Regions from separate parts of the Homo sapiens genome. Here region 2 is linked to region 1. The links come from fine-mapping of genetic effects on gene expression. Tissue or cell type: atrial appendage. Region 1 holds a variant in brackets; the other region holds the start of a gene. All regions are shown on one strand. Distances are from middle to middle.

Evidence for each region. PIP is the estimated chance that this variant, and not a neighbour inherited with it, causes the effect.
Region 2: YBX3 starts here. The variant in region 1 is the best candidate, but not a certain one, in a credible set for the expression of YBX3 in atrial appendage (GTEx, PIP 0.88).

Annotation. Positions count from the first base shown.
Region 1 is chr12:10,689,943-10,700,953 of GRCh38, forward strand. It overlaps YBX3 (Y-box binding protein 3), which reads right to left. Exons shown (of 10, transcript NM_003651.5): 10 at 9,147-9,712. Among named protein-coding and RNA genes, the nearest start is that of STYK1, 21 kb to the left of the region's middle. The variant C/T (reference allele first, on the strand shown) is at 5,179.
Region 2 is chr12:10,718,223-10,728,406 of GRCh38, forward strand. It overlaps YBX3 (Y-box binding protein 3), which reads right to left and starts at 5,101. Exons shown (of 10, transcript NM_003651.5): 1 at 4,628-5,101; 2 at 858-921. The coding sequence starts at 4,889. LOC124902876 reads left to right here and starts at 4,830. Exons shown (of 2, transcript XM_047429946.1): 1 at 4,830-5,438; 2 at 6,815-7,096. The coding sequence starts at 4,888. The coding sequence ends at 6,884. It overlaps LOC112268104 (a long non-coding RNA gene), which reads right to left. Exons shown (of 4, transcript XR_002957443.2): 4 at 7,970-8,057. RefSeq lists silencers at 4,347-4,746, 4,877-4,976, 4,997-5,216.

The sequences.
Region 1 (11,011 bases):
TAGGTCTAGAAGAAAATAAGGGTGTTGAGGGTGGGTCCTGAGAATCAGTATTGTTTCACTGGGCCACTGTCTCAGGGAAGGCAATTACTATTTTCTCAGGCAATTCAGGGTTAATACCACTGGGGGTGAGGATGCCACTGTATTGAGCATGGGGAGGCTGCTGCTTCTGGAGTTGAGGGGACCACTTCTGTGGGGGCTAGGAAGACCTCTTCTACTTGTAAAGAATGCTATAAGAATGAGGGACTCAATGTCCCCAGCTTCATCAGGGTCTTGCCACACAGCCACATCCCAATGTATAGGATCCCATGCTTTTTCATTTAATGCCCTCACTTCAATACAACATACCATGCAAAGCTGGGAATTCAACTTGCAGTGTACTCGGCCAGTCACAGGATGAGGTTCTGCCTTCGATTTTCAGCAATTTCAGCCGTACAGCTACAGGAGGTAAGAGTCTCCTTCAGGTCAAACATAGAAGCTCTTGAGACAGTTATGTAGTGCTTAAGCTGAGATTTCATATCCCTGAGCTCATCCTTTTCTTTCACTACTCTGTCTAGAAACATAGGAACAACCAACTAACATCATTATTTTCCTTAGTTTTCCAAAAATGATTGAAAGTATCATATACATAGTCACTTAGCTCCTTGCTTCCTTGTAAGTGGTGGACTAGGAGTACCCAGTGGAGAAATTTTGCATATCTCCATAAACAGTTCATGTCATACACTATCAATGCTTTATTTACTACTGGAAGTAGTCATTAGCATCTTTAAATCTAATCAGATTAGAGAGTCAATTCTGGGAACTCCAGAAGGAATTCTGAAAACTCATCCTTAAAATTCTATTCCTCTAGAAGCACTCTCACTACCAAAATCTCTATTAGTCGGGGTTCTCCAGAGAATCAGAACCAGTAGCATATATATATATATATATATATATATATATGAGATATATACACACATATATATATCTCACATATATGATATACGATGTATATATGTGTATATATATGATGTGTGTGTATATGATGTATATATATGATGTATGTAAAAGGTTTATTATAAGGAATTGGCTCATTATAGAGGCTGAGAACTGCTTGCTGTCTGTAAGCTGGAGTTCCAGAGATGCCAGTGGTTTAATTCAGTCTGAGTCCAAAGGCCTGAGAGTCAGAGGAGCCAATGGTGTAAATACCAGTCTCAGGCAAGAGAAGATGAGACGACATGTTCCAGTTCAAGTGGTGAGGCAGGGAAAAAGGGGCAAATTCCTCCTTCATCTGCCTTTTGCTCTATTCATGGCTTCAATGGATTAGGTGATGCCCACACACACTGTGAAGGACAATCAATTTACTGAATCTACAGGTTCAAATGCTAATCTCTTCTGGAAACACTCTCACAGGCACACCTCAAAATAGTGTTTAATCTGGGTACCCTGTGGCCAGTCAAGTTGACACACAAAATTAACCATCAAAACCTTCCCAACTACAACGAACTTCATAAAGGAAGGCCTCAATACCTACCAAATGCTGCTTGTTGGGGATGATGGAAATGATTAACAATTGCACATGCCATCAGCAGTCATTTAACCTTAAAATTTAACCTTAAAAAGAAAAAGGAGAAGCACTAAGCAGAAAAAGTAGGAGGAAAGGGTCTGAAAGTTCTGAGTCTGTCAAGAAAATGACTTCAGGAATAAGAATAATAAGGAAAGTCATTATCAGCACACTTTACTTTCACAACATCATCAGGGTTATCTCAAACTGTACTTGTCAAAAACGATCTAATACCACAGTTTAAATACACTTTTCTAAATAGAAACTAAATGACCAGAACGAGCAACGTATTTGATCTTTGTTTAGCTTCTCTCTTACCTATTCTGGTTGGCTATACTTATGATACAATGTCATTGGCACACACTTGGATTACTCTACATGGGCCGAGACCTCCACTATCCTTTGTCCTACAATTATGTAGAGGTATAGATTACATGTCTCAGGCAGTGAAACATAATCCCTAGATGAGACCAGGACAGAGCCATCCACAAAAAGACAATGGCATATTCTACTTGAGGGAGAGCTGGGATAATCTGAAATGTCTTCCCCTTTACCTTTAGTTGAAAACTACATTTTTCCTTTCAAATATGTTGAAACCACGTTCTGGAGTGAGCAGCCTGAGGTTATAGATGATGAGGGCTTTAGACCTGAACCTAGATATTATAACTCCCGAGCTTGTTCTCCATCCAGCCTACTTTCTGTGAATTTCAGTCTTATAATACATTTGTGTAACCAGCATCCACAATATTCACATTTCCTAAATGGCAACAAAAGTGACTAGCAAGGATTGTTGTGGAGGCCTAAAACAATGTTGAGAACATTGGTATTTAATGTGTTGTTCATTTATGCAAGAGACTTTAAAGGTAACTTCATACCATGCTTCTCAACATTTTTCACAAAATTTTTATAATCTTTCACTTTGCCCCACCCAATTTCTCTGACTTCTGGAGTAGTCAAGACAGGTTTTGGTTAGATCTACTTGAGTCCGCAAGGCAAGTTTCAAAATGGGGGAGGTGCTTTAATTGGCTGGTTCAAACCAGTTCTTTTGGCAACCTCAGTCAGCATATGGCCCCAGGTTCCCTTGTCTCTCCCAAAACTCAGCAGTTATCATGTTCACAGAGCAGAAATTACATGATTAGATGGTCTTTCTATTGGTGCAAGGATAAAGAATAATATCACCAAAACCACTAAACAATAGCAGAATTATTTTTTAGAGCCCATGGAACATTCACTAAGACAGACCATATCCTGGACCGTAAACCAAATAAAACTCAACAAATTAAAATAATCAAAATGATACAGTGTGTGTTCCCTGATTATGATGAAATAAAATTAGAAATTAATACCAGAATAACAGAAAAACCAACAAGCATTTGAAATTAAACACCGTACTTCTTAATGGGTCAATGAAGACGTTTCAAGATAAATTTTAAAATACATTAAACTGTATGAAAATATGAATACAACATTTGAAATCTGTGGGCACAATTAATGCCATGCTGAGAAGGAAATTTATAGCATAAGTGTTTATATTAGAATAGGAAAAAAGTCAAAAATAAATAATCTGAGCTCCAATCTTAAGAATCAGAAAAAGGACAAAATAAACCTAAAACAAGCAGGAAAAAAGAAATAATAAAGAGCAGATGTCAATAAAGTGCAAAACAGAAAACCAGAGAAAAATCAATAAAACAAAAAGCTGGTTCTTTGAAAATTTTGATGAAATTGAAAACCTCTTGTGAGACTGACAAAGAAAAAAATGATGCAAATTACAAATATCAGTAGTGAAACAGAGATTTTACTACCATCCCCAAAGACTTAAAAATAAAATCTAAAAAATCATTATAACTCTTCATACACAAATGTGGTAATAATTTAGAGACAATGAATTCCTTAAAAAGCATAAACTACCAAAACTCACCCAATATAAAATAGATAATTTGAATAGACCTATAATTGTTAAATTTGTAGTTTAAAAATTCTCAAAAAAAATACTCTATGCTCAGATGCTACCAAACATTTAAAGAAAATTTAACATCAATTATACATAATCTCTTCCAAAAAACAGAAGAGGAAGGAACACTTTCCATCTCATTTTATAAGGCTAATGCTAACTGTGATACCAAAACCAGACAAAGACAGTACAGAAAAAAGAAAAACTACACACCAATATCCCTCATGCACAGAGGAGTACAAAACTTCAATAAAATATTAGCAAGTTAAATCCAATAATATATTTAACATTATACAACATGACTAAGTGCATTTATTCAGGGAATGCTAGGCTGGTTCAATATTTAAAAATCAATATAACCCACCATATTAACAAGCTAAAGAGGAAAAATCATACGATCATATCAACTGAGGCAGGAAAAGCATTTGCCAAAATCCAATACTCATCCATGATAAAAACTCTCAGCAAACTAGAAAATAGAGAGGATCTTCCTGAACCTGATAAAGAAGATCTACAAAAATACCTACAGCTAACGTGATACTTAATGGTGAAAGGCTGAATGCTTTCTCCCTAATATTGGGAAAAAGGCAAGAATATCCACTCTACTATTCTCAGTTAATATAACACTGAATGTCCTCACCAGTCAGCACAGTAAGAACAGAAAATAGGCCCGGCGCGGTGGCTCACGCCTGTAATCCCAGCACTTTGGAAGGCCGAGGCGGGCGGATCACAAGGTCAGGAGATTGAGACCATCCTGGCTAACACGGTGAAACCCTGTCTCTACTAAAAATACAAAAAAATTAGCTGGGCGTGGTGGCGGGCGCCGGTAGTCCCAGCTATTCGGGAGGCTGAGGCAGGAGAATGGCGTGAATCCGTGAGGCGGTGCTTGCAGTGAGCCGAGATCGCGCCACTGCACCCCAGCCCGGGTGACAGAGCAAGACTCCGTCTCTAAATAAATAAATAAATAAATAATAAAAATAAAGAACAGAAAATAAATGAATAAATGGCATACAGATTAGAATGGAAAAAATAAAACTGTGCCTACTTGCAGATAACATAATCTACCAAAACATTTCCTAAAACTGTAAGTTCAGTGAATTTGTAGCATAAAAGGTCAACATATACAAATCCATTCTATTTCTATACACTAGTTATGAACAGTGAAAGCTTATAGTACCACTTGCAATCACTGAAAATGAAATACTTGGGTATAAGCCTAATTAAATATGTACAGAACTTATATGCTGAAAAGTAAAATGCAGATGAAAGAAATCAAAGATTTGAATAAATAGAGAGATGTACGTGTTCATGGATTGGAAGACTCAACATCAATTCTCTCCAGACTAATCAAGGGCTTAACACATTCTGTATCAAAATCCAAGCAAGGTTTTTTTTTTAGAAACAGATTAGCTTATTCTAGAATGTACACAGGAAGGCAAAAGAACTAGAATAGCTAAAACAATTGTGAAAAAGAATAAAGTGGGAAGAATCACTGTACCTGATACTAAGATTTATGTAATTATGGCAATGTGTTATTGGCAGAGAGATAACAAACAAGACCAGTGGAACAGATTAGAGACCCTAGAAAAAGACCCACACAAGCAGAGCCAAGTGGACTTTGGCAATGGTATAGAAAAGCTATTCAACTAAGACAGTCTTTTCAACAAATGGTGCTGGGACAACTAGA[C/T]AGACATAGGTGAAAACAACTTAAACTTCCTATCTTAGACACAAAGATGGAGAAAAACATGGAAGAATATCTTTAAGACCAAGGCTAGGTAAAGAGTTCTTAGACATAAATAACACCAAAAGCACAATCAATAAAGGAAAAAACAAAAACAAAAAACAAAAACAATAAACTGGAGTTCACCAAAATTAAAAAGTTTTGTTCTGCACAAGACACTGTTAAAAGGGTAAAGACGGCCAGGCATGGTTCTCACACCTGTAATCCCCAGCACTTTGGGTGGCCAAGGTGGGTGGATCACAAGTTCAAGAGAGAGAGACAATCCGGGCCAATATGGTGAAACCCAGGCTCTACTAAAAATACAAAAATTAGCCAGGTGTGGTGGCATGTGCCTGTAATCCCAGCTATGGGAGGCTGAGGCAGAAGAATCGCTTGAACCTGGGAGGCGGCAGCTGCAGTGAGCCAAGATTGCACCACTGTACTCCAGCCTGGCAACAAAGTGAGACTCTGTCTCAGAAAGAAAGAAAAAAAAAAAAAAAGTCAAGACAAGCTACAAACTGGGAGAAAAATGTTTACAAACCACATCCTTGACAAAGAACTCATATCTAGATTATACAAAGAACTCCCAAAATTCAAACAGTAACAAAAACCAAACAGCCCAATCAGAAAATTGATGAAAGACATGAAAAGACATTTCACCAATGATACAGAGATGGTAAATAAGCACATGAAAATATATAGCTATTAGGGAAATGCAAATTAAAGCCACAATAAATATCACCTCACCTATAAAAGTTAAACAAATAACGGTAATAATACCAAATGCTGATGAAGATGTTAAGAAATCAGGTCTTATACGCTGCTGCCATGAACGTAAAGTGACATAGCCTCTGTAGTAGTTTGCTAGGGCTGCCGTAAGAAAATACCACAGATTAGTGGCTTACACGACAGAAATTCCTTTTCTCAGGTCTGGAGGTTGGAAGTCCAAGATCAAGGTGCTGGCAGGTTTGGTTCACTGAGGCCTCTCCGTGGCTTGCAGATGGCCTTCCTTCCTCTTGCAACTTCTTCAAATGGCCACCCCCCTGTGCACGCATGTCTCTGGTGTTGCTCCTCACAAGAACACCAGTCATATTGGATTAGACCTCACCCTAAAATGGACTTATTTTAAACTCATCTATCACCCCTTAAAACAACTTATCTCCCAATATGGTTACATTCTGAGGTACTGGAGGTTAGGACTTCAACATTTGAGTTTTAGGGGGACACAATTTGGCCCTTAACAGCCATTCTGGAAAACATCTTAGGAACTTTTTAAAATAACAACACACACACACACACACACACACACACACACACACACACTTCTTCCCACAATTTTTATTACTCGGGAAATTCTGTTCTCAACTGATAAGAGGGAGTTTTCACCAGTGGTGCCAAGTCCATGTGACAGGCACAGGCGTTGCCTGGAACCCCTTATGTGCAAGCCTTCATGAATTTGACAATGAGATCAATGCATAAAAGAACAATACTATGGCAATAACAAAGTGGTGATTTCTAGTCTCTTTTATCAGATGCCTCTATTCTATACCCCTTTTACTAGAATACTGTCCAAACTAGAGGCATAGGGAGGGATCTGCAAACTAAGCTCCCCGTGTTATTTGACCAGTGTGGATCATTCATTAGAGCTTACCATCCCCATTCTGAAAGCCTGGGTGATTCTGGAGCTAGCTCATCAGTTAAAATGAAATGCTTTCACAAAGCATTTTGGGAAAATCACAAAGCTGATGAATTCTTATTTCTGCTACTGCACAAGATCACATTTCCAGAGATTTATATCAGCACCTGTATCCTTTCTAGACTTTTTCTTATTAAACAAAATGCTTATGCCATAATATACAAAATCAATCTTGAGATTCTTTTCCATTTTTTAACTGAAACTAGCTTCAATCTAATTTAGCTCTAAATTTTTTCTTTAAAATCTCAAAACATGTCTTTATAAACACATTTATCCACTCCACTAAGAGCAAAAAGCTTTCAAAACTTGCATCTTTGCAATAAACACAAGAGCCCTTATAACAGTTACAGCTGACTTACTTGTGATCTGAAAGCACCCATCACTCTTGACACATAGTAGGAGGCAAATACTGATTTGCATAGTGCTATTTTCTGATAGGTGCAGTGCCATCAAATATGAACAACCACAGAGTTAAGTTGTGATTGCCGTATGACAGATAGCCTTCTAGTTAATTTCTGGCTGTGGTCTCACCCCGGTAGCCTGTATTTCTTGATAAAGCAATCCAAGGTCCCTCACCAGTAAAATAACATACTTTTGGCCCATCCTCACATCACATCCAATTTGTGTTATTTCTGTACCTACAACCAGTGTGTTTTCCCCAACTCTGCATTCATCATTCCATTTTATTTTATTTTTTCCCAGAAATAGAATAGCTACCATCCTGAAACAGATGACAGTATTTAGAAGTAAGGATGTTGGGATTATATCAAGCAAAATGTTTGCAATGGCAATTAAGATACCCTCAATATCCCATGATAGAAGGCTAGTACAATTATGGATAGCTATGTAATGGAATGTTATATAGTCAGTACAAATGATGAGAGGACTCTATAGGAAAAATATTAGGTGAAAAAGAAAATCAGTGCCAAAAAGTATACGTACATTTTAAAAACATTTTAAAAAGTATGTTTGAAATATTCTATACTAGAATAGCTTTAAAGTGAGCAGGAAGAGAGAAGGGGAAGTTAGGAAAAAGAAGACTGGCTAAATAGTATAGTTGAACTATCCATAGAATTTTAAACATGGATATGTCTAATGATTGTTTTTAAGTTGTTAACATAAGCACAATTTAAGCTCATTTCCTCTTCTCAAATTTGCATTAGTCGGCCAATCACACACACACATACACACACACACACACACACACACAGAGACTCACACACATGAAATATGTGAAATGGGTCTATTTTTAAGATATGCTAACTGGTTGCCTGGAGGAAACTGGAACCAAGATGGGAGCCTTTTTTAATAGAATAAAATAGTTGATTTTTTTTTTGCCTTGGCCTATTACCAATTTTTACCAACCCTTTTAACTTGCAAGATAATACAAGGTTCTTGAACAGTTCACATTCACCTGCTTGCCATTTATTAGGCCAAGAATGCTCCCTCCACCTGCAATGCTCTTCCCTGCAGATACTCAAATGTTTAATGCCCCTTCACCTTAGGACTCCATTTAAATAGGAGACCCTCCCCACTATTTAAAATCAACATATCCCCTATGATTATGCCAGTCCCTGTCCTCCTACCATGTTTTATGTTTCTTAACAGCACTTATTGCCATCTAAATTAAATTCCATACTTGTTTATTTTCTGTATGTACCTGGTCATTGAAACAATGGTATTTTGTTGGTTTGTTCCATCCTAGCCACTAGAATAATGTTTAGCACAAACCTACACTGGATATGTACTGCTGCAGCAGTTCTGAAAAGTAACTATACGGCACTGACAGCTGCGATAGTTTTTCTCAACTTAGGGGCACCATGGCTGGGAGGGGGAGAAATGTAGTTGTAAAGAGCTCCCTTGTATACCTACAACACAGCAGTTACTGGTAAAAACCTCAGGCTGGAAGTTGAAGGATGTTAGAACTATTAACTCCTTCGTTAATCTAAAGGTCATCACGTCACCTCACTGAATGAAGATTACTCAAAAAGAGACAGTACCAAATAATTCATGCCTACTACTGAACTCAGACATGAACTTGTCAATTTCCAGCTGTACATTTCAACAGGAATCCAATTTTTTATCATCTCAAGCTTATATGCCTAAATTTGTGAAACAGCATTAACTTAACTTTACATTTGGCTTTGAATTTACTATTAATCAAGTCAAGTAAATCAAGTGGTGGAGAAGACAAACACACGCTAAGGTCGGCAAAAATACACTCCCATTAAACATTCTGTCCTCTGAAGGGTAAAAATTTTATTTTTGAGGAATTTCTTACTGCACATTTTCAAAGAGAGTCACATAAGAAAGCAAAAATGTTATCCTCCCCTCATCCTAGAAATAAATAAGAAGGACATAAATTTTTTTTTTTTTTAAATCATGACACTTGGAGGTTTAGCACCAGCATCCAAAATGAACAAAAACGGAAAAAAAAGCATTTACTATATATTTCAGATTTCTTTGGTTGGGGTTCTCCCCATGTGGTATTAATATTTCTTGTTTCAATATATATATTACCAAAACAGTAAAAACCAGGAAAAAAAATAGAAACCTAGCGGTTGCTGAAACTGGAGAGGCTACTCTCTTGTCTTCCGTGCAGGAATTCCCAGGTTCTCAGCTTGCTGGAAAAATTTGTTGACATTTTCTTTTTGTAGTTGTTTCTTAAAGAATAACAGTAAACATTCCAATGTCCAAATCTTGGTTAGTCTTCCACTTTATTGCTTGGATGTTTCTTTGGTGTTGGTTAAGGTTGTGGCCTGCTTTTTGCTTTATTTCTGAATGGTCATTAATTCTTTAGGTCACCTGGGAAAAATTAAAATCAAACTTATAAAGAGTGACAAAGTAACCATGAGTTAAAGAATAAAAAGGCAGAAATTATATGCTTTTCATATAATTAGAAAAAGAGTACTTCAAATGCTCTAAATACAATCACATCTTGTATAGATCTGTAAGCTATATGTTAATTAAATGGAAACTCTCACTTTTTAATAAAGTATTTTTATAAACCAGAAAAGTCAGTACATAAGAGCAAAAATTTTATAAAATTGTATAAAAGAAAATTACCATTACTAATGAACAATACTCAAAATCATTTTAGTGGCTGCACCCTATCTCCTAATATGAATATATCACAATTAGCTATTTACCAAATGTCAGACAGACTGTAAATTGTAAAAATATTTTTTCCCAATATTTAAAATTATTTCCTTAGAAACAATACCTAGAAATAATGTTACGCCATAAAAGGGTATGGCCATTTTTATATTATTAATATGTTACTCTGAATCAGCTAATTCCAAGTTTGAATAGGGAACTTATTTCTGTGACAAACTGTCCATGCTACCCAAGATAAAACAGAATATTGTCCTCAAAGTGAATGCTTACCTAATTAATGGCTGATTAAAATCCCACATCACTGGATATAAAAGCAGATGGCCTTAAGACACAAGAACTTATAATAATCCCAAAACTTCATTGATGAAATTTTAACAATTTTTGAAAAATAGCATTGACACTGAGTTTACAACCTCTCTCTTAACTAAAAGCTAATGGAAAGGGTGATAACCAAGAAGTATAAGAACTAAAGTCTCAGTTAAAAGGGTTATAGGTTAAAAAAAAACAAACCCAGAATTTATAATTGAGTTGATCTTTCTGGCTATAATTCTATGTAAATAAAATGTCCAAGACCTTTAAAAGACAGAAAAAAGTAGAAAATGACAAGAAAATAACAAGCTATCCTTTTACGAGAGGTTATTCTTTACCATACCCTATTGTAAACACTCCCTGTTATTTCACTTAATAATCCTTGCAACGACCCTAGTAAATATAATTAGTATCCTAATTTTTACCAGTAGCAGATAGTACTGAGACAGAGGATAAACTGCTCAAGATCACCCAGCAAATGAGAGGTACAGTAGAGCCTGCAATGGGTAGATAAACCTTGGCTCTTATACACTATGCTGCACCGCCTCAAAATAAATAAAGTTGATTATCAAAGAAAAAGGGAAGGAAAAAAAATCCTTTAGTTTATTCTACTGTTTCTGATTACTAAACAGGTTCTGAAACTGTTTCTGATTACTAAAACCAGGCCTTTGTTAGGGA
Region 2 (10,184 bases), 28 kb after region 1:
AACATATATTTTCACTTATTTTCTACACTCAATTCAGACACCTAAAATCCTTGTTAAACATTTCTAACTCCACAGGCCACCCACCTTCCTCCTCCACATTGCCACAGTGCTTAGATCCAAGCTCACAGACTCAACATACAGAAACATCCCGTTCCTCTGTCTCTTTCTGAATCACATGGTGTGTAATCAGAGCCTCAGATTTTCCTCCCAGCAAAAGCAAAGCAAGACAGTTAAAAGGACAGGGCACAGCTGTGAACTAGGCTCTCCTTACACTGAAACTTAAAACAGCCCCCCACCCCCACCCCACCAAAGGAGACAAGAAATTGGAGGACTTTAAGAAGGGGTGGGAAAGCAAAGAAAATGCCGATATCATGTGAAAACCTCATAATACTCCCAGCATCTTGTAGTTATGTTCTCATTCCTGTACGGTTAAAAGTTACCACAGTTTACAGTTTCTACATAGGACTGGACCAGAAGTGAGTTAAAGATCCAGCTCAATGACTCACTAGTTGGGTGACCTTAGGAAAGCTGCTTAACCAGTGTAAGACTCCGTTTCTCCATCTGTGAAATTATGGATATGGTCTCATTTATCCTAAGGCCCTTCCCATTTCTGATTTTATCTCCCCCTCCTTTTCTTCCTTAATGACTAGATTTTATGAAATAAGTTATTTATTAGTGTCCTGGAAATGTATTTTAAGTAATATTTAACAACCAGTAGCTTAGAAATGAGAATATTTACAGTGCTTAGAAACCTAAAAAATTTATATAAGCCATTAATGAAGGCTAAGGGATTTATAACTCCTGGTGCCACAATGTAAGTATAAACTTAAAACATGCAAATATACACACACACATACCGATTTATAAATCCATATCCATTTCTGACGTTGAACCATTTGACAGTGCCAAGGACTTTGGTGGCTAAAATAGGATTAAGCAGATAAATTAGTATCTGACCTACAGAGAGATATAGCTCATATCACTAAGATCTTGATAACATTAGACAAAGCCTAAACATACCTAAAGAAACCATTAAAAGCTTAATTCCAAAATACTTTAGAAAAAGAAAATGGAGCAAGCCAAGATCTCATAAGGAAATACTTTTCAGAAGACTAAACCTTTCTTCCTTATTCAACTTTTCAGGAAACTCGCAAGATAAGGAGTGGTTATAAGTCTATACAATTCTGTAATCATTAAAATTGAGAAACACTGAAGGAAAAAAAGAATGTTCAAGATGAATGTTCCAAGTTTTAACCTAGACAAATTTTATAAGTTCAAAATAGGAGCTACAATAAAAGAGTGAAAGACCTTAACACATCACTTTCATACTTGGAAATATTAGGCAAACTTTAATGAGAAACAAGGTGGCTCCTTGTTAACAGGCAATCTACAAAGACGTAAAGCAACTTGTCCAGTCGCCAAGTGGGAGCTCATCAGAGGAGTCAAGAATAATTATAGAACTGCTGCTGTCTCAATCCAGTTCTGTACTTACCACTCTGAGACGTGATATAACAGGTCTTTTCAAATCACATGATGAATTTGGGCTTGTTTCTTTGTTTACCTTGCTCTCTACAGTTTTGCGAATCAAACTTAAGCATTTTTCCATAAAATCCCCCTCTTTACCATAATGGTTGTCTCTACCTCATGAGCAGGACCACTTCTCTACAATGCCTGATTTTAGCAGAATTGAGAGAAGGAATCTAAACAAAATAAAACTTCATGTAACTTGTATTTTGTAGGTTTATATTTATCTCAACTATTTCAAATATGATCTTTGGAATCAATTATGAATGACAAATTCAGTACTTCTAGGAAATGCCCCTGTCTCAATTCAGGAAGTGCAAAAAGCAATTATAAAGACTCAATGAAACAGGAAACCTGATAATAGATTACCTTAAAGAAAAAATAAAGAAAAAAGCCTCAGTAGAGAATGAAAGTAATTATTAACATCAATCCATACTGTCTTTTCATAAGATACAAAGTTTATAATTTCCAAGGATAAACAATAAGGCTTCACTTTTAAATTCAAAACTAAAATAGTAATTAAGACTTGCTCTGTTGTAGGCAGGGGTAGTTCTGAAGTTTGCTAGACTGATACACTTGGGAAAATACTTTAGCTCTCTTTGTTGGGGGAAAGAAAATCCAAAACAAAAAAAACATGTCTTTATATCTCCAAAGTTATGCAGTCTACACTGATGAGGCATTCTCCAGCTTTAATTCCAAAGATCTCTCATCTCTCCAAAGGAGAGATCAAACCCAGGCCATCTTACGTTTGAGGCCACTCTGATTGGAGCAGCAAGGCAAAGGAGAAAAAAACAGTTGATGTTTTCGATGCAAATGTACACAGTAGAGGCCTGTTTTTGATACATTATATGCATTTAAGTCAGGCAATATTCCAAATAATATGCGTTTAGTGCCTCTTTTCATTTGCCCAAAAAATTAATTACCTGGGAAAATATAAAGACTGGAACTGTTTTTAATATCTAGCATTGTTGAAGGAATAATCTTGATTAAAATGACAATACTAATAATAAAGGAAAAAGATGATAAATAATTCTCAGGTCTAACCTCAATCCAAGCTGAAGGTTATTTTTACTCTCCAATGTAGTTTAAAAAAGTTTCGTAATTCCGCAAATACTTCTCCAAGGACTTCTTATGATCAAATTCATTCCCACGTCTTGCTTTAAACCATAAACCCACTTCATATACACTAAGGGGAAGGGTTGGGGAGGAAGACCATAGATTTCCATAACATTTATCAGAAGGAAAATTTTTTTGCACTCATGAAAACTATTTTTCCTGGCCTATGTGCTTATAAACTCAAGTGAAGGCCCATTTGCAAATACTAGAACATATCCATTTTAGTCAGCATTGTGCCTAGTACATCTTAGGCATCTATGTGTTTGCTTGGCAAAGGAAAGGGGATGGCAGGACACACTAGACAGAGACAAACAGTGTTGAGGTGTCACGTAGAAAGGGCTGTCCTTCATTTTTAGAGAGACGCAGTAAGAGTGGAAAGATAAAAGGCATCAGACTCATCACCAGGGATCTGCAGAGGCAGTTGCTTGAGGAAATTAACCTTCATTTATCTGTTTCCTTCATCTTTAAAGATAGTATCTGCTTTCCCAATCTCAGAACAGTACAGGATTAAGTGAAAAACCGCAAAAGCTTTCTACAAAATAAGGTATCATTAACAATGTTATCCTAACACTGCTTTGGAGAACACAAGGTTTTCTCTCTCAGACATCTGGCAGAAAGTGTTCCAAGAAATATTTGCTAGAAACAACATCACAATGTACTACTGACTAGATTTAAGCAACTTTTAGTCCAGCAAAATCAGGCCTATTTTGTTTCTTAACCTACACAGGTTACAATTAGCATGTTGTTTGGTAGGGACTTAGTAAAAGCCCTAGAAAAAAAAAACAAGAAAATAGTCCTCTCAAGGTGGGGAATATTGAATACACTTCTCTCACATTGCTCCCTCAACTTTCTTCCCAAAGGGGAAGTAGGGCTCAGAGAGATGAGACAAACATGCCCCACCCCAAATAGTGAAGAGGTCTCCGAAGCATCCTACACCATCTGTTAACGTTCCTGTTTATAAGAGCGAACGATATGGACACACACCCTTTAGGGAGGTTATTCACCACCCACCTGCTTTGCAAGCGTTTAAGAACTCACACAGGGGCGTTACTTACGAAAAGAACGCTTGTTATGTGACTAAACCAACAACCATCACAGAAACCCTTTCCATCCACTGCCCCCCCAAATCTCAACATTTCATCTTCCTGTTTCCCTTCCTACGTTACAAGTGCCAAGGTAACAATGTTTTGAACTAACGTCATACCCCCACTTCCGACAAAGTTTTTTCAGCTGCTACACCACGTGCGTTCCCACAGTCCGGGAAGAGGGAAGCGTGTAGCCATTGGTGGACACTGAATGGCTGTTTGCAGCCGTGGGCACAGAGAGGGGGAGGAAGACGTGGGACTAAGACCCAAGTTTCCCGGAGACGATTGCAACATCTCTTTGCTGGCATGTGGCCAACAGGAGCATGGCGTCTTTCCCATGCCCATGTGGGAAGGGCGTCAGGGACAGACACCTGACCCTTCCTGGCAAGAAGCTTTTCTATCTTTCCCTCCCCGTCTCCTTCTAGCGCCCTCCTCTTCCCCAAAGGAAATGCTCTCCTTTCCCAGATCCCAAGCAAGGACCCCAAAGCGCCAGGCCCACGTGTCGGTCCTTCCCCTACATCCATCCCTACCCAAGGTCCCCTCTCCCAGACTGCCTCTCCTTTCTTCTCCAAACGCAGGCATTTTCCACCACGCGAATCCGCAACAGTGCCCGTCTGGGAGACAGAAGTTAAGACCTAAACTTTCTGGCCCGGAACCAGAAGGGAGATGCACACGGCCGCCAGGAGCGCAGGGCGCAGCGCGCTCACCTGGGAGCGCCGGCAAGGGAGGCGGCCAGCGCTGGGGACCCGGAGACCCCTGGGGACCCGGAGATCCCTGGGGACCCTGTGCTGTCAGCGTCTCCAGCCCGGGTGGGAGATGTAGCGCGAGCTGCCCACACGTGCTCCGCGGCCGGCTGGGCCCGCCCCACTACGGCAGCCCCTGCCCTCCCTGGCCTGACTCACCGAGAACTTTTTTCTCCGCGTCTTCGCTGCCGGCGGCGGTGGCTAAAGAGGCGGCGGCCGCGGTGCCCGTGGCTGCGGGGGCCGCGTCCCCACCGGGGTTTCCTGCGACGTGGGCGGCGGGCGCCGGGGCCGCGGCCTGGGGCGCACCGCTGCCCACCGGGCTCTTGGGCGCGGGGTCCTGGGGAGCCGCGGCGGCCGCCTCCGTCGGAGCCTGCGGGAGGGTGGTGGTGGTGGTGGTGGTGGCCTCGCCCGCCTCACTCATGCCTCCTCCTCCTCTGCTCTCGCTCAGGCGCCTCGGTGGCGGTTGGTCGGCGGTTAGCGCGGCTGGTGGTCGCGGCGGCCGGGGCTCGCTCTCGGGGAGGCCGGGGCGGATCTCGCGGCGCAGGCGGCGGCGGCCGAGGTGGGGTCGCGCGGCGGAGGCGGCTCGAGCTTCGTGCTGCGCGCTCTCTCTTGGGCTCCTCGCTCGATCTTACTGCCCCAAAAATGGCCCCGCACAAGTTTTTCTAGGCGGCGCACCGGCCCGGGAGGGAAGGGCGGGCGAGGGGAGAGGGTGGGGAAACTTGGCTCGGGAGTCGGGCCCTGGACTCTCATTAGCATTTAAAGGCGCCCGGTGCGCTTTCTATGGCTCCAATCCGCCGGGACGCGAGCGCGCGGGTCGCGTTGCAGAACCAAGGAAAGCCAGGGTGAACGGGGCGCCCGGGTTGTCTTCTGGAGCGTTCCGAGGAGCCCGCGCTGCTGACCCTTTGTTGGAGCGGGGTGCATTGGCTCTCCTCCCTCAACCCGTCTTGACACCCGCAGCTGACAAGGAGAGGTAAAATAGGGCACCCAAACTACTCTGCGCTTTACCCTCTCAAACACTTGTTTTTAAATCCTTTGCATCTAGTCAGTCATTCAACATGTATCAAGCACCAGCAGCTATTCGTAGCACAGCTGTTAAGACCTGGAATAATAAAACCTTAAGACTATTTGGCAACTTACTCCTGAAAGGTAATATACGGATAATTTCATCTGTAACACGCAGATGAGGAAATTGACCTCACAGATTTAATGTAAATTCAGAGTTTACACCAATTTAACCGCAACAAATAAGGAGCTGTCAATATATATTTAATAAGGAACACACACAAAAAAAGCTGAATAAATCCACTTCCTACCTTCTGCTCCAGTTGCCTCTGCCAGCTGGTGAAAGCTTAAGGAACTGAGCCCTCTTAGCCTCGAGGATGAGAGGTATAGAGAAACAGATCACCCAATAAACATTATTCCCAAGTTGAAGAGCCCACATGCCCTTTGAGAATGGGCTGGATGGTAGTAAACACAGGGCCAGAGGGTCTGGGATCTGTACCCAAAGACTGTCTGGAATACAGGACTATTTGGCCCCTAGGGTTCAGACAGACTAGGTATAAATTCTGGCTTTGTTTTTTATTAACCAGGTTAACTTGGGACAGAGATTCAATGTCCCAGAGTCGGTTTCCTGCTTTATGAGAGGTTCTCAAAGGTGACATGAAAAGTAGATGAGATTATCATGTGTCACTCCAGTGTCCGGTCCACCTAAAGCTCCTTTGTTTTGTTTGTTTTTTAAGTTATTGCCTGTTCCCTCAAACAATTTACCAAATTTTTTTCCAGGAATATGTCTGTAATGTCGATGTCTACCTTAACATCAGTAGGGTAACTATCAAGTGTAATTCATCTTTGTATCTCCACTGGTTAGTACAGTACGTAGCACAGAGTTTGGACATAGTGAATGTTTACAAAATGAAAACAGACCAAATTCTTCCAAACTCAATTACTTATCTGCACATTTGCTATCAATTATTATGAAACTTTCCTGAATTCTTACTTTCTTATTTCATCCACAAAAAACACAAAGAAAATAAGTTATTTGAAAAAATAGCAAATTATGTAATTTTGAGCTTTTCTATGTAATTCATCAATATTTAAAAAATTACAAACTCTTAAATGTTAGATTCATATTTTAGTTTGACTTCAGTATGGAGCATACAGTGATGTTATATAAATGTAGATGCTTTTAAAATGCTGGTCTAATTCTAAGAATGATTAAATTATTTCTTCATGTGAAAGATTATGGTCTTAATTACAATTAAATTATAAACATGATTTATTCTGGTGAGGACTGACCATTGACTTTCTTATTCAGCAAAATGATTATCATTGCTATTTACCTTTCAGAATTACATTACAAGAAAAAAAAGTAAGGAGATTGAACTCTTCAAACCGATCCAACAGTAAAGCCTTTTAAAAAAATTCATCCTTGGAAGTAATTCATAACTAACAGGTGTGATCTCCAACCTCTGGAAGACCCTAAAATAATTACAGATGCACCCTGGGATTTCCTAGAATTTGTGCTGGACTGGCTTCCAAAACTACTCATCATTGTCATCCAAACAAAGCAGTGAGCAGCTGGAAGTTGTTGGTATTGTACTAAATAAATCTAAAGAAAATTAGAACAAATATGATCTATGTTTTAATAATCATAAGTAGGAAGCAACTTGGATACAGATACACATAAATTTATCCATTCCTTCATTCACTAATTCATACACTCATATTTGCTAAGCAAATGCTATGTCCCGGACAAAGTACACCATTGTGAGTATCCAATGTTGACCAAAATGGAGCCGGTTGTAAGGTCTTTTGATATGATGTTAAAATTATTTTTCACTATCAACATTTCTATTGTAAGACAATATCATCATTTACTAAGTTTAAGAGTAAGTCAACAAAGAATTATAATCTAATTGCTGACAGCAGTCATTTTTAAGCAATTATTGGTTTGATCATAAAAACAAATGCCACTCTGTTCCTAGTATGGAGGAAGTTAAAGCTCTCACAACTGTTGGAAGGGCTGAAGGAGGGAAACTCAGAGAAGCTCCACTGAAGATCTCAGCCTCCAGTCCCCAAGACAGTGGTTCTCAGGAGTTCTCCTGAAGCCACTGGAGCCACAAGATCTTTCGGAAGTTCTCAGCAATTCAGGGCTGGATTCAGGTTTTGTGATGCTTAAAACTAATACAATTTAGAGAGCCCTTTTTGAGATAAAATAAAGTTATGAATACTAAAATGCTAGGACTGCTCCCAGAGTCTTCGAAAGGGTCCGTGCAAGACAGGAGCCCTGAAATTTAAACTTCATTAGCTTTACTCCTGCACCTGCTATCTCAGTCAGCAACACCGATGCAGTAAGTCCTCAAGAAGTTCATCTGGAAGCAGCTTTGATGCCGATGCATCTTTCTATAACTGACTCTGGTATATAATGGTCTTCTCTTCTTCCTTCTAAACTTTGAGCGAAAGGCTCTCATTGTTAGATTCCAACTTGGAAATATACAGGCCGGGAGGGAGATTCTGGGAAATGTAGTCTCTGCATTTGAAGAAGCTAAAGTTGATGCTAAATTGACAGGAGGCTATCCAGCATATCACCCTAAGGAAGAAAATGCAATTAATTGACTAAGGAGATTGAGGAGAATTCAAGTTATTCAAGGGACTGGAGCTTAAAATAAGGAAGCTTTGTGTATTAGCATATTTGAAACTGGAAAACAGTGAAGTATTAATCTCAACTTAATTGATACAAAAAAGAACATGAGGGAAATGGTCAGTTTGGAACAAAAAAGTGCAAGAATAAGAGAGTAAAGGTATTTCAGGATGTCTCCAGCAATGTTCAGGGGGAGAGTGGACCTTGGTTATCACGCTCTGTTTGGCACTCAGTAGTAATGCATTCAGCACATTTATTAATCATTGCAATTTGGTGCTAAGAACATCATGCAAAACAGGCAGGAATGCCCCTGTATTGAATGAATTAATGGTATAGACCCATACTGTCCCATTGGAAATATAATTTGAGCCCCAAATGTGAACCAAATATTTAATTTTAAATTTTCAAGCAGCCACAATAAAACAGTAAAAAACAGATGAAATTAATTTTAATAGATTTTACCTAACTTAATCAATATAAAATATATATTATTTCCACATTTAATCAAGGGTAAAACCATGAATGATGTATTCTACATTCCTCTTTTTTTTTTTTTTTGGTACTATCTTCAAAGTGTGTATCTTACACTTCTAAGACATCTCAATTTGAACTCACATTTAAAGAGTTCGGTGTGGCTGATGACTACCATATTGAGTAGCACAAGCCTTCTAGACAATTAGAAGTTTAACCTGAATAATTCTTCAGGATTCCATTGGGAAAAAGTCCTGGGCCTGAAAGCTGGACCATACATCAGTCTGTGGCTACCCAGCAAGATAATGCTACCTGTTGGGCTGGTTTGAGCTTCCTTTGTGACATATAATATCCAAAGAATTTACATGAACCATAATGCCATAATTCTGAATAACTCTATAATGATGTCACTGATGATCTCTAGGGCATGTAAACAAAGTGAATTTACAATATCCATTCCCTGTCACCACTGCCTTTATGGACTATGCTTCTTCTTTAACTTTCACATATATTGGCCTACCATAATGAAGATGTATTATAGGATTTCTTCCTTTTCATTAAGAGAACTGAGAATATGGTGGGGAATTGGCTGTGACTTTACTCTCCCCTATGGGAAGCTGGATTTAGAGTTCAGAAAATGTTGCACCTCTAGACCTGAAATTATTAAGCAGGAGGAAAAAAAAAAACAAGCGATTACTGAGAAGTTTTGAAAAACCTGATTATTTCAGCATATATTGATTTTATATAAAAGTTCCAGCTTCTAAGTGACTTTGTTGCATTTGTTTTGCTTCTACTTATTTTCTTAACTATTTAGATGTGTTCTTAGTGTTTAAAGACTAGGAGATTGGTACAGTTTTGGTGGAAGAACTTGACAAGATTATCTGATAAGTAAGAACTAGAAAGAAATGTATCCATCTCAACCCCACTCATTTTAAAAACAAGGAATTGCAGTTCAGAGATTAACTGACTTTCTCGAACTAATTTATGTATTTAGTGGCAAAGCTAGAACCAAAACCTGAGTCTCCTTATACCCAATTCAGCGCCCTTGCCACCATAAAATTCTGATTGACAAAATGTCAATGCTGTAGCATTGAGTCCCCTCAAAAATAAAGCAAGGCAGCACTTTGGGAGGCCGAGGCGGGTGGGTCACTTGAGCCCAGGAGTTCAGGACCAGCCTGGACAGCATAGCAAAACCCCGTCTCTACAACAAACAAACAAAACAAAAACCAGCAAAAATTAGCTGTGCTGGACATGGTGGTGCATGCCTGTAGTCCCAGCTACTCAGGGCTACTCAGGAGGCTGAGGTGGGAGGATCACTTGAGCCCGGGAGGTCGAGGCTGCAGTGAACCATGATCATGCCACTGTGCTCTAGCCTGGGTGACAGAGTGAGATCCTGTCTTAAGAAAAGAAATAAAGCAAGGCTCTCTGGCCACTGAAGGTAATGTTCAGATCTTTCCAATTAGGACCTCTGGAGAGGAAACCAAACAGCTGTGTGCAATTTTATTTTACAGCATTTTGGAACGTTCTGAAACAATGAATAAAATATATTCTCTTCTTCCTAAAAAAGCTTTATTCTGTCTCTTTTTGCACATACTATTTTTTCTC